Regions from separate parts of the Homo sapiens genome. Here all the other regions are linked to region 1. The links come from fine-mapping of genetic effects on gene expression. A gene starts in region 1. Each other region holds a variant in brackets. All regions are shown on one strand. Distances are between the middles of the regions.

Evidence for each region. PIP is the estimated chance that this variant, and not a neighbour inherited with it, causes the effect.
Region 2: its variant is the best candidate, but not a certain one, in a credible set for the expression of CAPRIN2 in whole blood (TOPMed, PIP 0.71).
Region 3: its variant is the best candidate, but not a certain one, in a credible set for the expression of CAPRIN2 in whole blood (TOPMed, PIP 0.64).
Region 4: its variant is the best candidate, but not a certain one, in a credible set for the expression of CAPRIN2 in whole blood (INTERVAL, PIP 0.79).

Annotation. Positions count from the first base shown.
Region 1 is chr12:30,753,136-30,757,170 of GRCh38, forward strand. It overlaps CAPRIN2 (caprin family member 2), which reads right to left and starts at 1,816. Exons shown (of 19, transcript NM_001385503.1): 1 at 1,616-1,816; 2 at 209-424. The coding sequence starts at 385. LOC645485 (a long non-coding RNA gene) reads left to right here and starts at 1,939. Exons shown (of 2, transcript NR_135046.1): 1 at 1,939-2,136. RefSeq lists enhancers at 1,190-1,269, 1,273-1,442 and silencers at 1,370-2,049, 3,141-3,344.
Region 2 is chr12:30,623,445-30,627,479 of GRCh38, forward strand. No RefSeq gene overlaps it. Among named protein-coding and RNA genes, the nearest start is that of IPO8, 70 kb to the right of the region's middle. The variant T/C (reference allele first, on the strand shown) is at 2,219.
Region 3 is chr12:30,586,355-30,590,389 of GRCh38, forward strand. The region is part of intron 1 of LOC105369719 (a long non-coding RNA gene); the gene reads right to left. Among named protein-coding and RNA genes, the nearest start is that of IPO8, 110 kb to the right of the region's middle. The variant T/C (reference allele first, on the strand shown) is at 2,327.
Region 4 is chr12:30,717,782-30,721,816 of GRCh38, forward strand. CAPRIN2 (caprin family member 2) reads right to left here. Exons shown (of 19, transcript NM_001385503.1): 13 at 3,030-3,134; 14 at 1,298-1,444. Among named protein-coding and RNA genes, the nearest start is that of IPO8, 24 kb to the left of the region's middle. The variant TTTTA/T (reference allele first, on the strand shown) is at 2,307.

The DNA.
Region 1 (4,035 bases):
AACTATGAAGAATATTTTTATTCCGTTGTTTTGACAAATGAAACAGAAAATGTTTAATATTTCCAACACGTAACCTGCTTGTTTAAAGCAGCTAAACCTAAGGTTAGTTAAATTTTTAGTAGAGAACACCTATGAGCTCTGAAAGAAAAATGTCAGCTCCTTAATCTTTAAGATCATGCATCTACAGGACTGGAAGAAAAAAAGTTACCTTCTTTTTCTCGATGTTTCTAATTTTGTGTTTAAGGCATATGAGTCCATTTTCAATATAGGTCTCATACGCTTGGGAAGGAGATGCAGCAGAACTCAGAGTAGACTGCAGGGGGCTCAAGGCCCGCTGGCTTTCCCCATGCTGACTGTGGTTCACTTGGGGCTTGGCTGACTTCATATTCCCCTCTCTTTCCTCCTCTGAATGGCCTGAAGGTGACTGGTAACCAAAAGGGGATGAAAAGAGTTGCACCATTGAAACAGATGAGGCTGAAGGAGGTGGGGGAAAGTTAAGTATAAAATTAGGACTAGAGGGACACAGCCAGGCAATAACTTCCCTGGAAAGTCTAGACCACTCCCTTAAACTCTTTTCCACAGAAGTGAGCTCGAAACCCAATGATGCTTGAGATACTTGTACTTCCATCCTACTTTTAAAGTAATTAGTGCCGCTAGCCAATAAGGATAGCCTTTACATAGGCAAAATCTCCCAATACGGAGGATGTTTCCAGAAATTCGATTTTCCACATAGGGAGGAAGAACTGCAACGGCTTCAGAGCTCCTTTCTTCTCATGAGGGCAGATCACATTCTAAATAATTCCCATGGCCACGTGATGACACCAAAAGAATAAGCTTTCCACACCGGGACCTAAGGCTGAGCCACTCAAACCTCTTTACATGATCCCTCACCACCAGCCCTAACCTCAATCCTGAACGTTTGGAAGAAAATCCAAACTCACAACATTCTTTTATAGCTCTAAGTGAACCAGCAGCTTCTTGAACAAGAATGCTAACTTCCCCGATTGCTCTGGGGCCTACAAGGCAATCCATCACTACTGGACATTTGCAGACAGGTACTCTCTCAACCTGCAGGAACCCCGCGTTTATTCTCAGTTGTTTGGTTTAGACTAGCCCAAAACCGCTTACACCCAACCAGTTTAAGAGCTCATTCTAGCGAGCCCTTCCCGTGCCCTAATCAGTGGCCCTTGCGCACTTACGTATCCGTCTCTCGACCTCCAAGCACCCGAGGTATCCCTTTCTCCCCCCTTAGGAGCATCCCCAAACCAAGGACAGAACAGGCCCCATGCACGCCAGCGCGCACCCCCTCAAGTCTCCGGGGGAGCCTGAGCGAAGAGCACCTCTCCCGAGCGGCCACGGAGAGCCCTGCAGGCACCGACCCCCACCCTTCCCACAGCCGCCCCGGGTACGCAGAAGCCGCTTCTGCAAGGCCCCGGGGGAGGCTGACCTGCGGAAAACGCACCGACCGCGGCCCTCGGGAGCCCCGCCCCGCCCCGGGGATGCCAAGCCGCCCCTCCACCTCGCAGCGGCGCCGGCCGCCCAGACCTGCCCACCCTCGCCGGGTCAGCCGCCTCCCTCCGCCGCGCCGACCGAGGCCGCCGCAGCCCGACTTCACCTCCCCAGGCAGCCGAGGCCGCCGCTGCCGCAGCCCGGGCCCGCCTTCCAAAGCCTGGGGGAGGCAGGAGCGCTGCGGAGGTGGACCGGCGCCACCCCGCACTCGCGTCTCCTCCTCCTGTCTCCTCCCTCTCCCCTCCCGGTCCTCGCCCGCGGCCTCTGCGGCGCCAGAGACCCAGCCGACTCAGCCGCTCGCGCCCAGGCCCGCCCACCGCGCCGCGCGTGGCTTTTGTAGGCCGCGCCCCGCCCCGGCCCGCTCCGCCCTCGGCCGCCCCGCCACCGCCTCCTTCCGGTGCTCCTTCCCGGCTGCAGCTGGCCGCCAGCGCTTGTCGGGTGTTAGTTCCGGGCCCAGCTTGGGCTGGTGGTAGGTCGGGAGAGGGCGCGGTCTCCCAGCCTTTGCGCAGATTGCGGGGCACCAGGTGGGGCCGAGGCGACGCCGAACGCCGGCAGGCCGGAAACCGCGCAGCCCCGCTGGACCTCGCTGATTGCCGGCGGCACCGGTGGTTTCGCGACCTTGAACAGGTGACTCCAATAGCTCCAGGAGGGCAGCGAGCCCTTCGCGGAACTACCAGATAAGCCATGCTTGAGGCTGTCGTAGCCTAGTGGGTAGTCGTGAAATGCAGATGCGCCTTTGCCCCTCAGATAGCATCTTTCATAGTAGGATGGGGAAAAAACACCGTTTCCTTACCGGGGAATCAGCCTGTAAGAGCAGAATGCCCCAAATCAGCATCGCCATAAAAACGGAGTAGGTGACTTCGCAACCTGCAATAATAGGATTGAGTTTATTCAAGCCGTATTATTTGTTCATGTGACACACATTAATTGACTGGCACGCAGAGAAAGCTGTAAAAAATCTTTGTAAGGTTACATAAAATTAAGAGAAAAGTCTGGAAATATGTAAAAGTTTATTGAGGAAAGGAAGGTGTTTCTGATACCAAATAAGAAACACACACACACACTCAGCAATACTTTGCCCCAACATGTGTTTACTTATTACACCAAGTGGAGTTTTTTAGGTCCTGATTGTCCCTGACGCTCTGATAAAAAATATTGAGACTAGCAAAAGAACAGAAAATTCAGAAGAAGAATCAAGGAAACAAAGGTCTAGTTTTAAAAGCCTTGGTCAACTTCACACAAATTAATTTTAACATTACTTAATACATTTTTTTGGCATCTATTATCCGTGTTCTTTTCGGTCCCTGGTGACATAATGTACCCTAATGTTGCATTTTAACTTTGAATCTCTGAATCCCATATGTGTTCTTCAGGGTCAGAGAAATACTAGATTTTCCCTTTTTCTCATTGTTTATAAACAGAGAAACGCAGAAGATGCTGAACATGAGGAGAGGAAGGCTATGCCTTCACCTTTGGTAACACAAAAAACAGTGGCCATAAGAAAAAATGTGAAGGACACACTGTTGGATCAATGAGTTGACACAAAGTTACAGCACAGCCTGAGTTGTAGTCCGAGCTAATGATGAACCTAAAAATGGTATTTCAGTCAGATTAATCATGAAATGTTTGCCCCCTGCCGGCGCAGTGGCTCAAGCCTGTGATCCCAGCACTTTGGGAGGCCGAGGCGGGGTGGATCACCTGAGGTCGGGAGTTCGAGGCCAGGCTGGCCAGCGTGGTGAATATCCATCTCTACTAAAAATACAAAAATTAGCCGAGCATGGCGGCATGTGCCTGTAATCATGGCTACTCAGAGGCTAAGGCAGGAGAATCGCTTGAAACCCGGAGACGGACGCTGCAGTGAGCCGAGATTGTGCCGCTGCACTCCAGCCTGGGTGACAGAGCAAGACTCTATCTCAAAAAAAGAAAGAAAGAAAGAAATGTTTGCCTTCTAATCGGTCAGGCAAAAAGGAGGCCGTAAATTTTAAATTTTCTACTAAATGGATATTCTTCTAAATGAATAAATCCATACAGATTTACTTCTCAGGAAGGATTATAAAAATGCATCACGAAAGAATGCAAAAGCAAAAATAATTGAATTTCAAGTCCAGTAGGGTACAGTCTGTATACGTATGGCGTGACATTTGTAGGAGAACATACCACAGTAGATACTCTTGAAGCAATGTCTTCTGAACAAGTTAAAAAGATGATTCAGATAAAAGCTTTTCTGCTAGAGGAGATCTTTAAAGTCAGTAAGTCTGGCTTACTTTGAAAGCACATGTCCCCAAAACTTTTATTTGTCAGGAGTTTAGTTTATTTTACCCTCTCCCACTCCCTATTTTCTGTAAGACCGTGACTTTTCTTGCCAACTGTGAGGCAGTATCTGTGGCATGCCACCTCCAAGCTTAGCAAGGAATAACTATATTGGAAATATGATAAAAAGTGTTGTCTCGAATCATTGATAGAAGAATATATTCATTTATTCATTCAACAGATGTTTACTTAGCACTTGCTATGTAGTAGGTGATA
Region 2 (4,035 bases), 130 kb before region 1:
CAGACCTGAGGATTTTCTGATCATGCTTAGGAAACAAGCCTCAAAATCACTTAATATTTGTAAAACATAATCTTGATTTAGAAATTTAAATGTCCAGCCCAAAATATTAATCAATACTTCAGTCTTCAAAGATGAGAATTCTCCTGCATCTGTCCTCCACCAGTCTGTATATTTACTTTCTATTGTTGCTGTAACAAATTACCACTAACGTAATGGCTTACAACCTACAAATGTATCGTCTTACAGTTCTAGAGGTCAGCAGTCCTAGATGGGTCTCACTGGGCTAAAATGAAGGTGTTGGTAGGTCGACATTTCATCCTGGAGACTCTAGGAGACTGTTTCCTTGCCTTTTCCAGCTTCTAAAGGCTGCCTGCATTTGTTGGCTCACCGTGCCCTTCCTCCGTCTTCAAAATCAGCAATAATGGACTCAGTCCTCAAATCTTGTCACTCCAGCCTTCTCTTCTGCCTCCCTCTCCCACTTTTAAGAAACTCCATGATTACATTGGGTGCATGTAGATAACCCAGGATACTCTCCCTGTTTTAAGATCAGCTGATTAGCAAACTGAATTCTATCTGGAATCTTAATTCCCCTTTGCCATGTAAAGTTACATTTTTACAGTTTCCAAGGATTAGGACGTAGACATCTTTGCGTGTTTGGGGGTCGTGGTTCGGGAGTCACTATTCTGCTTACCGCAGCCTATAATACAGCAGCCAATCACAGGACAACCACTGGTGAGGATTAACACAGTGTGGTGGGATCATGAAACAGCAGAAAGGGAAGTAGCACCACCTGGCAGTGGTGGCTAGTTAAGATTATTCCCTATTTATTAAACCTATGTTGAAAGAAGAGGCTAAAAGCCTAACAAGTGGAGTTATACTGAAAAAGTAAACGATCTGCTTATTTATTTCTGCCTTCAGAGAATCACTTGACTATACTGCCCAGCCACAACCCCATTAATGGTACTTGTGGTACCAAATGTAAAGAGTCTAAAACTTCACTCATTGGAAATATGGTGCCTCACAGCAAAGGTTTCAAATGCAACCCATTTAACTACCAAAATGAAAATTGGTCTTATTCCCCCGAAGTACACAACACCCTCATGAAGAAATAAACACTTCTTGCTGGTACCTATTGATGTTAAATTTCTTGTTTTATTTGAAAATGCTACCAATCCTGACACCACCCAGCTGAGGGTTGTCTGACAGCAGCAGCTGCAAGGAGCTAAAAATTATGAAATTAAATTTGTAGTTTTGATTACTGCGATTGGCCAACACTGGGTTATCTGGTTTGGAAATCTGTGTGTAATACATACATACAACAAATTCTTTATTTTGAAAAAAGTACATAATTTGTATTAATAAAAAAATCAGCTTCTTGCTAAATAGCAACACAAAAGCATATGAAAGTATAAATCTCACTGCTAAGGGTAAATACATAGACAAATACAGAATAATGTAATATTGTAATGGTGGTGCATAAATCACTTTTAACCCCAGCATAAAAGACAAAAGTATTAAGAATATAACCACAAAATATTGGTTAATGGATACACAACATAAAAAGCAAATTCTGACATCAATAACAAACTGGGGAATGGGAGAGTAAAAGTGTAGTTTTTGTATGTGATTGAAGTTATCAGCTCAAAATAGACTGGTACAATTCTAAGGAGGGTTATGCAAGCTTCACAGTAACTACAAAGAAAAAATCTTCAGCAGATACAAGAAAGGGAAAAGAATCCGAGTATATAACCATAAAAAATTATCAAATCACAAAGACAGCAAGAGGGGAAGAGAGGAACAAAAGAACCACAAAACAGAAACCAATGAACAAAATGGCAGTAGTCAGTTCTTACCAATCAATAATTTCTTTAAATGTAAATGTATTAAATTCCCCAATCAAAGATACAGAGTAGCTGAATGGATTAAAAAGCAAGATCTAATTATAGGGTGTCTACAAAAGACTCACTTTAGCTTTAAGGACACACGTAGGCTGAAAGTGAAGGGATGAAACAAGATATATCATGCAAATGGTCACCAAAACAGAGCGTAAGCAGCTTTTCTTATATTAGACAAAAAGACTTCAAGTCAAAAACTGTCACAAGAGACAAAGAAGGTCATTACATAATGATAAAAGGGTCAATTCAACAGGAAGACGTAACAATTATATATGCACCCAACATCAGAGCGCCTATATATATAAAGCACACATTGATAAATA[T/C]GAAGGGAGAAATAGGAGTAGAATGTATTAGGAGACTTCAATACCCCACTTTCAATAATAGTTCATCCAGACATTAGAGAAATAAAGAAACAGTGGTTTTGAATAACACTATAGGCCAAATGGAGCTAACAGACATGTACGGAACCTTCTACCTAACGGCAGCAGAATAAAAATTCCTCTCAACTGCACATGAAAGATTCTCCAAGATAGATTACATGCAAGGTCACAAAACAAGTTCTGACAAATTTAAGAAGACTGAAATAATTTCAATTATCTTTTTTGACTACAAAGAAATGAAACTAGAAATCAATAAAAGAAAACTGGAAAAATTCACAAATACATGGAAACTAAACAATATATTCAACCATTGGGTCAAAGAAGAAATTTTAAAAATTAGAAGATATTGTGAGACAAACAAAAACATAACATGCCAAAACTTATGGGAGGCGGCAAAAGCAGTGCTGAAATGGAAGTGTATAAATGTCTACATTAAAAAAGTGTATAAATGTCTACATTAAAAAAGATCTCAAACAACCTAACATCATACCTGAAGGAACTAGAAAAAGAAATAAGCCCAAAACTAGCAGAAAGAAGGAAATAATAAAGACTAGAGCAGAAATAAATGAAGACCAGAAAACAAAAGAAAAATCGACAAACTGAAAAGTTTTTTAAAAAAGATAATCAAAATCAACAAACCCTTAACTAAACTAGGAAAAAATAAGATAAAATCAGAAATAGGAGATATAACCAATGCCAAAGAAATTTTTAAAAGGAACTAATATGAACAATTACATGTTAACACATTGGACAACCTAGAAGAAATGAGTAAATTCCTAGAAACATACAAGCTACCAAGATTGAATCAAGAAGAAATAGAAAGCCTGAACAGATCAATAACAAATAAGGAGACTGAATCAGTAATTTAAAACTTTCAATCAAAGAAAAGCCCAGGGACCAATTGGAAGAAGAAACCACTGAATTGGAGGCAGTGAAAAAAGGCAACTGGAGCGTACTTTCCAAGAAGTTGCACACAGTGAGATAGCTGAGGAAGGGCCAAATTACTTAGGGTGGCCAGGTGGCCTCACACTTCCAATTCCAGCTCTTTGTGAGGCCAGGGTGGAAAGATAGTTCAAGGCCAGGAGTTCGAGACAAGCCTGGGCAACATATTGAGTCCCTGTCTCTACAAAAAATTTAAAAAATAGCCAAGCATGGTGGTGCTTGCCTGTACTCCCAGCTACTCAGGAAGCTAATGTAGAATCACTCACTTGACCCCATGAAATCAAGCTGCAGTGAATTGTGATCGCACCATTGCATTCCAGCCTGGGCAACAAAGTGAGACAGCCATAGTTGCCCTTTGTGCTTCTTCCTCAAACATAGTCTATCTACAGAGTATAAGCCATCTCTTTATTTATTGATTTTGCAGCCTTTCTTGCTAGCAGACTGCCTAGAAATTTCCCAATCCACCCAGGCAGCATTTGTACAGCAGTCTCAACGGAGAGAGTAAGGTGGAACAGAAAAGACTGCTATTTAAGGCTCATCTGGAATAATTTTTAATGCACGAAACATTCATGCATACACACACTTGCACGCACATGGTCCTAATACATGGCCAAGTTTCCCTTTTATGCCTGGATTATTCAGTCTCCCTTGCTAAACAGAAAACTGTACTATAATTCATTATATTACTTAATGACAATTTAAAATAACTGTTTTCCTATCGCAAGAACAAAAAACCAAACACCGCATATTCTCACTCATAGCTGGGAATTGAACAATGAGATCACATGGACACAGGAAGGGGAATATCACACTCTGGA
Region 3 (4,035 bases), 170 kb before region 1:
GTTATGGGCTAACCCCAATAAAGGATCTAACTTTGGGCAAGGCAGCTCCCTTTGGTCAAGAACAATGTCCAGAGAGGGACACACCTGACAGCCACCAGGAGCCAGCTCTCCCAGAGGCTGAAGGAGTGAGCACTTCAGTTCTGAACAGGAAATCTGGGTGGCGCATGAGGCATCCATGACACTGTCTGGTACCAAGGTCAGTTCAGCTACTTACTCGCTATGAGATCTTGGTTAGTTTCTTAATCCTTCTGTGCCTCAATTTCCTCAACCTTAAAGTGGGAATAATAATGCACTTACCTCAAACAATTGTTATGAGAATTGGATGAGTTAAAACTGCTAGAAACACACCTGACACAGAGTCAAAACTTCATAAGAATAGAAGGTCGAAACCTCACGACAACCCAAGTCTTCTGATTTCCAGTCCTGTGCCATTTCTTCAAGTCATTCATTTCATCAAGGCTCCTCCATTCTCATTCTGTTTCCAGTGTATGTAGTACATGAGCATTGTGTGCTGCAATGTGCTACCCATAACTATGTTGCACCTTTACAAAAGTATGTATTAATTTCGTATGACCAAAACAAGGGTATTTAACAAAACAACCTGGAAATTTCAGTGGTTTGCAGCCATCTATTACTCACTCACTTACTGACTTGTAGGTTTGGCTAATCTGGGCTAGGCTTGGCTGGGCCTGACTCCTAACTCCATGGCTGGGCCCAGGCCTTTCCACGTCTCTTGTCTTTCTTAGATTAGCAGTACTCACAGCATATTCTGTTCATAGTGAAAGACAAGAGCTCAAGAGACCACACCTAAATATGCAAGCACATTCTAAGCTTCTGCTCACATCTGTGGTCATCCCATTGGCTAAGGCAATCCAGGTGGCTAAGCCCAAAGTCAAGCACGTGCACCAAGGAGAGAAGGTACCCATAGAGGTTGAGGCAAGGGAAGGACTGGAAATTTGCTGAAAAATAATCTTCCATACAGCCTGATGAACAAAGATTTTGTAATAGAAAAGAAGATACTCATGACCAGAATCTTAAGAAGAAAAAAAGCTGCAGGTGAAAGCCTTTACTAAATACTTATTACTAGTATGTCTAGGCAGATCCTTCTAGCCTCTGTCTGACTCAGTCTCCTCATTTGCAAAACAGTTATAATGCTCCCCTTCTATTTAATTCATAGAAATGGGATATCATCATTCTCATCCACGCATCATACTTTTTTGTGGAATACTGCAGCAAGTCTTTGTAATAAGTTGGCATTCTCTGCCATCTAGCATGCTTATAATTCTTTATTGAGCATTCCAGCATGGGACTGATCCCCCAGAACTGTCATAAAAAGGCATGAGAATTGCAGAATTACTTCAGTAGATAGGAGTGGCTAGAATCTAATGTGCTATAGATTTTTTAAGCATTGGGTCTTCATCTCATAGACTTCTATCTACCCTGACAGCACTTGAGTATATATAAGCCCTCCATAAAATCTAGTTGAATTTTCTGTTTTCAAGGTCAGTTAAATAGAGGATGGTACCAACACTGCTGAGACACCAATCAGACAATGCGCTCTGCTAAAAGCCTAATGCAAGCCTCTTTGCCTGTGGTAGTTACTAAATACCCAGCTCAGCACTTTTGCTCCTTAATTCCAAAACCTTCTATTTGGGTACTACCTAGCAGCATCAAATTGTTTAAAATAAAATAAAAGAATGATGGCTCAGCAAACTGTAGCTTTTGGTCCAAAAATTTATATTTCTAATTCATTTAGTTACAGCAAGACAGATGCCAAACTTTTATGGCTTTTTAGTCTAATCAAATTTGTGTACACAAAGATGAAATCCTCCTCTCTCTACTTGCCAGGAATGAGGCATAATCTTTATTCTAATAAAAGCTTTATTGCTACAAGTATCACCTAGTTCTTTAAAGACCCTCTGAAATCATTTTGATCTCAGGAACACTTTTTCATACCTCTTCCAGATTGATCTTATAAAAGTACCATAGGCAGATAAATGAGGGTGGAGCCAAGATGGCCAAATAGGAACAGCTCCGATCTACAGCTCCCAGCGTGAGCGACGCAGAAGATGGGTGATTTCTGCATTTCCATCTGAGGTACCAGGTTCATCTCACTAGGGAGTGCCAGACAGTGGGTGCAGGACAGTGGGTGCAGCGCACCGTGCGTGAGCCGAAGCAGGATGAGGCATTGCCTCACTCGGGAAGTTCAAGGGGTCAGGGAGTTCCCTTTCCTAGTCAAAGAAAGGGGTGACAGACTGCACCTGGAAAATCGGGTCACTCCCACCCTAATACTGCGCTTTTCCAACGGGCTTAAAAAACGGCACAC[T/C]AGGAGATTATATCCCGCACATGGCACAGAGGGTCCTACGCCCACGGAGTCTCCCTAATTGCTAGCATAGCAGTCTGAGATCAAACTGCAAAGCGGCAGCCAGGCTGGGGGAGGGGCGCCCGCCATTGCCCAGGCTTGCTTAGGTAAACAAAGCAGCCGGGAAGCTCGAACTGGGTGGAGCCCACCATAGCTCAAGGAGGCCTGCCTGCCTCTGTAGGCTCCACCTCTGGGGGCAGCGCACAGACAAACAAAAAGACAGCAGTAACCTCTGCAGACTTAAATGTCCCTGTCTGACAGCTTTGAAGAGAGCAGTGGTTCTCCCAGCATGCAGCTGGAGATCTGAGAACGGGCAGACTGCCTCCTCAAGTGGGTCCCTGACCCCTGACCCCTAAGCAGCCTAACTGGGAGGCACCCCCCAGTAGGGGCAGACTGACACTTCACACGGCCGGGTACTCCTCTGAGACAAAACTTCCAGAGGAACGATCAGACAGCAGCATTTGCGGTTCACGAAAAACCACTGTTCTGCAAACACCGCTGCTGATACCCAGGCAAACAGGGTCTGGAGTGGACCTCTAGCAAACTCCAACAGACCTGCAGCTAAGGGTCCTGTCTCTTAGAAGGAAAACTAACAAACAGAAAGGACATCCACACCAAAAACCCATCTGTATGTCACCATCATCAAAGACCAAAAGTAGATAAAACCACAAAGATGGGGAAAAAACAGAGCAGAAAAACAGGAAACCCTAGAAAGCAGAGCACCTCTCTTCCTCCAAAGGAACACAGCTCCTCACCAGTAACAGAACAAAGCTGGACGGAGAATGACTTTGACGAGTTGAGAGAAGAAGGCTTCAGACGATCAAACTACTCTGAGCTACAGGAGGAAATTCAAACCAATGGCAAAGAAGTTAAAAACTTTGAAAAAAAATTAGACGAATGGATAACTAGAATAACCAATGCAGAGAAGTCCTTAAAGGAGCTGATGGAGCTGAAAGCCAAGGTTCGAGAACTATGTGACGAATGCACAAGCCTCAGGAGCTGATGCGATCAACTGGAAGAAAGGGTATCAGTGATGGAAGACAAAATGAATGAAATGAAAGGAGAAGGGAAGTTTAGAGAAAAGAGAATAAAAAGAAATGAGCAAAGCCTCCAAGAAATATGGGACTATGTGAAAAGACCAAATCTACGTCTCATTGGTGTACCTGAAAGTGATGGGGAGAATGGAACCAAGTTGGAAAACACTCTGCAGGATATTATGCAGGAGAACTTCCCCAATCTAGCAAGGCAGGCCAACATTCAGATTCAGGAAATACAGAGAACGCCACAAAGATACTCCTCGAGAAGAGCAACTCCCAGACACATAATTGTCAGATTCACCAAAGTTGAAATGAAGGAAAAAATGTTAAGGGCAGCCAGAGAGAAAGGTCGGGTTACCCACAAAGGGAAGCCCATCAGACTAACAGCAGATCTCTCGGCAGAAACTCTATAAGCCAGAAGAGAGTGGGGGCCAATATTCAACATTCTTAAAGAAAAGAATTTTCAACCCAGAATTTCATATCCAGCCAAACTAAGCTTCATAAGTGAAGGAGAAATAAAATACTTTACAGACAAGCAAATGCTGAGAGATTTTGTCACCACCAGGCCTGCCCTAAAAGAGCTCCTGAAGGAAGCACTAAACATGGAAAGGAACAACTGGTACCAGCCACTGCAAA
Region 4 (4,035 bases), 35 kb before region 1:
ACGTGGCAAGCAACGATCTGTCCTTCTATGACTCTCTAGCTCCCTGATTCTGCTCCATTTTTCTTTACATCACACAGCACCTGATATACAGGTATTTGTCTCCCTAGCCCTCCTACCTCCATACTAAAATGTTAAGTTTCCTGAGCATACTTTCCTTTTTTCACTGCTACAACCTCAGTGATTAAGAACAGTGCCTGGTTTTGTAACTATTCTTTAATCAATAAATGAGTAAGAACCAATGTGTACCGGGTAGGATTCAAACAGGCAGAGAAAACAGATTGGCATGAGCAAAAGGTACTGTGACAAGAATATATAAGGCAAGCTCAGGGGACTAGTGTGACAGGTTATAACAGACTTGAAAAGGTACTGAGTGTCAGAGTACTAAATTTCATTCTGTAATGGAACACTGCTTGCTTTTAATTAGACAAAAGAAAAGGTAAAACCAATGTGGCTATACTGTGCAGGATGAACTGACAGGAAAAGAGTGAAAGCAAGGAACTATTCTATCTAGAAATAAGATATTCTAAGTGATCAGGTGAGTGAATTCAGCTGTCTGGACTCACCAGCCGATCTCCCGGGGTGGTGCCTGCTTTCCATGCTACTCCACTGGCCCCACTACCACCATCACTCCGAAGTGCTTGGAGTGGGACACTAAGCACCAATAGGAAGGGTACTTATTGGCTCACTAAGGCTTTTTTCCCCCACAAAGAACTGTTTTATACTAGTCTGTGTTTAGAGAATAAACATACCAAACTAGCTGTAATATTATTTTTTTAAAAAGCCTTAATTGCAATTTGTAGAAAAATACGTAATTCAAAACACCACACAAATCTGAACAAATCTCCAAAAACCATCTTGAGATCAGGATAAAATAAAATGAAAGTTTCAGCAATGACAGAACACCCAAGTATGTGTCCGGTATTTCAGGTTACTGATGTTAGGGAATAATACTAGTAAAGATATTAGTAATGGTTAGTATTATTAAGCTGTTGCTAGAAATTCTGTTTCTCACCCACACATTTTGTTTGTTTAATATGGATCCTCAGCTTTGCCTGCTACTAATTCTAAAAGAAGGAATAATGCTCTGATAAAACACCCATTTAAAATTCTAGAGGCTGTGGATTTCCTATTCTTCTGCCACAAACAAGTACTGCCATTGGCCAAATATAATTCTACCAACCCAAATAAATTTTACAAAAGGCAAACTTTTCACATAGTATCCAATAATTATGTAAGAGAAACAATGGCTTTTAACAGGAATAATGAACTGCAATCATCATTCATGTTTCATACTCACTGTCTGCATGGCTTGAAAGGGTGCTGTGTTAATGGTTACTGAACTACTACTTGCTGGAGGTGACTGGAAGCCCTGTTCAGAGCCCTTTGCCATGGGAGGATTTGGAGAAGCTAGTGAAGACGGTTGCTTGCCTGGGGGAATTGCTGCCTGGGGAGGAGAAATGCAGCATCAGCCAATCACCTGCCATATAACAAGCAGTTAACTTACTCTAAAACCCAAACTGGCATAAGTCAGCAAGTTCTTTAGGATGACATTTGGACACAGGAATGCAAAAGAATAGCTTTTGCTTACAATTTCAAATCTCAATTGCTGAGGATGCATACCAGTATTTGCTTTGCACAGCTTGCTGACTAAGTGAAAGAGTCTTACCAATAATCAGTCTAACAGATGAGGGGCTGAACTTTTTATACGCACCTAGTCCTTTTCAAACCCTGAAATGGTAATTTCCAGTTAAGAACCTAATATTATTCAAAATTTATACATCAGAATTGGATTTAAGAAAAAACTTGGATTAGTTGTTTAGTGTTAATTTTTCTCTATTTTAAAGACTTATTAGTTAGTAGGTTTCTAAGTCAGCTACCTAAAACAGAAAACAACTCCGATCCAATTTAAGTAATCCTTACCTAAGGAAGCCACAAGTTCTTGACATAACAGATTATAAATCCAAAGGCTTAAAAAAAATACCAAAAACCAATCTCAACTAGATTGTGAAGCAGACAGCTGTGAGTTACTTGGTAACAATCACTTCTTCCTCTTCTTAAAATGAGGAATGAGATAATTTAAATTCAGATCAAGCCAGCACCATAAAAACTAAGGATTATCTATATTTTCTTATATTCTATAATGAATACATATTCTTCTATAACAGTTAACAAAAAATACCTGATAGTTGCTAAATTACTCCTCAAAATTCATCCTACTATGTCCATCTCAAGGATTTACTCAAACTTAGTAAAAACTGTAACTTAGAATTGAAATTGAAAGCACAAACATAATACTGTTAAAATGT[TTTTA/T]TTTATTTATTTTTTTTGAGATGAAGTATCACTTTGTCACCCAGGCTGAAGTGCAGTGGCACAATCTCTGCAACCCCCGCCTCCTGGGTTCAAGCAATTCTCTGTCCTCGGCCTCCTGAGTACCTGGGACTAGAGGCATGAGCCACCACACCCAGCTAATTTTTGTATTTTTAGTAGAGATGGGGCTTCACCATGTTGGCCAGGCTGGTCTTGAACTCCTGACCTCAAGTGATCCACCTGCCTCGGCCTCCCAAAGTGCTGGGATTGCAGGTGTGAGCCACTGCATCTGACCGAAAATATTTTTGACAAAGTTAGCCAAAACAAGATTGTAACTCATTCCAACTCAATAAGTGCTAATATTAATAAAATAAAGTTATTGAGCTTTCATTTATACAAATAAGAGACTTTTCTCCTAAAAGTCCTTCAGTGTAAATATAGTGGAAAACTTGACTTAATGCTACCTACACTTTTCATTTTTTTAGATTAAAAATGGACATTTATTGCACTAGATAAGGCAATACCATATTAAATCTATTTATATGGCAAAGCTACAATAAAGTTACCTGTAAAAGTTCCAAGATCACAATATCTATAGAAAGCAATACATTAATAAAGTATAAATGTTACATCATTCAACTAATCATGCCTGTAATTCATAAGATAAACTGGTTCTGCTATTCTTTAAGATACAAAAGAAATTAAGACAATTGGTCTTTTACCTCAGGAGTCTCTGAGGTCATAAACTCTGTTTCAGATCCAGAAGAAGCCTGATCGGTAGTAACCAAGCAAGCATTTGAGCTACAAGTAACTGGAGAAGAAGTAGCCTAGACACAGGAAAATACAAAATATTGTAAAAGGCACATTTTGTTCACTTTATATTTCTTGGGCCCTGGCCTTCCTAATATGTTACTCTTACTGAACACGCACATGTGTCAAGCACTCTGCTAAACACTTTATACGTGTTAATATATTTAATCCTAACAGTAATCTGTGAGGTAGGTACTATTCTCATTTTATTGACAATTAAGCAGTGGCAAAGAAAGGTTAAGACATTTGCCCAAGATCATACTACAATTAAGTGGCAGAGCTGAGATTCAAACTCAAGCAGCCAGCTAGCTACACTGCCTGTCCAGGCCTGGTCACCAAAACTACACATCTCATCCCATGTTCACTGATTCTTGGCCCTGTAGTAGATAGCATTCACGGGAAGGTGAGCTCCGGGTACGTTTAACACTGTAGGCACAGCTCTGCCAGAGATCATAGTATAACTGTGCTTTCATGCTAAGTGCTATCAGCATCCTAAAGAGGCAGGCTGAAATATAAATAGGAAGAATAAGCTCTACATAAATCAGAATGGCACCAAAAATTCTAGTGAAAAATCAAGCTGATAGCATATGTAAAATAAAAATTGGGAGAAAGCACATTAGGAAAAAAAGTTGTGACAACTGTAACCAACAGAAAATTAAAAGAGTGGCTAGGAAAGAATTCTATCGCACAACAGGTATTCAAATACAGCAGAGAGACACCCATAAAAATCTGGCAATAGCAAGATCTAAAGTGTCAGTGAATCCACTCCTTTTATCTAAATGCTTCTATGTGGTTCTCAGAAGCCCAAGTAATAAAATAGGTGAACTGGAAACTAATGAAGGGTTACAAAACAGAGAAATCATGTTTCAGTGACCTTCTTGAAGGAGGCATTATGATATGTTGCTTTTTAGGAAGGAG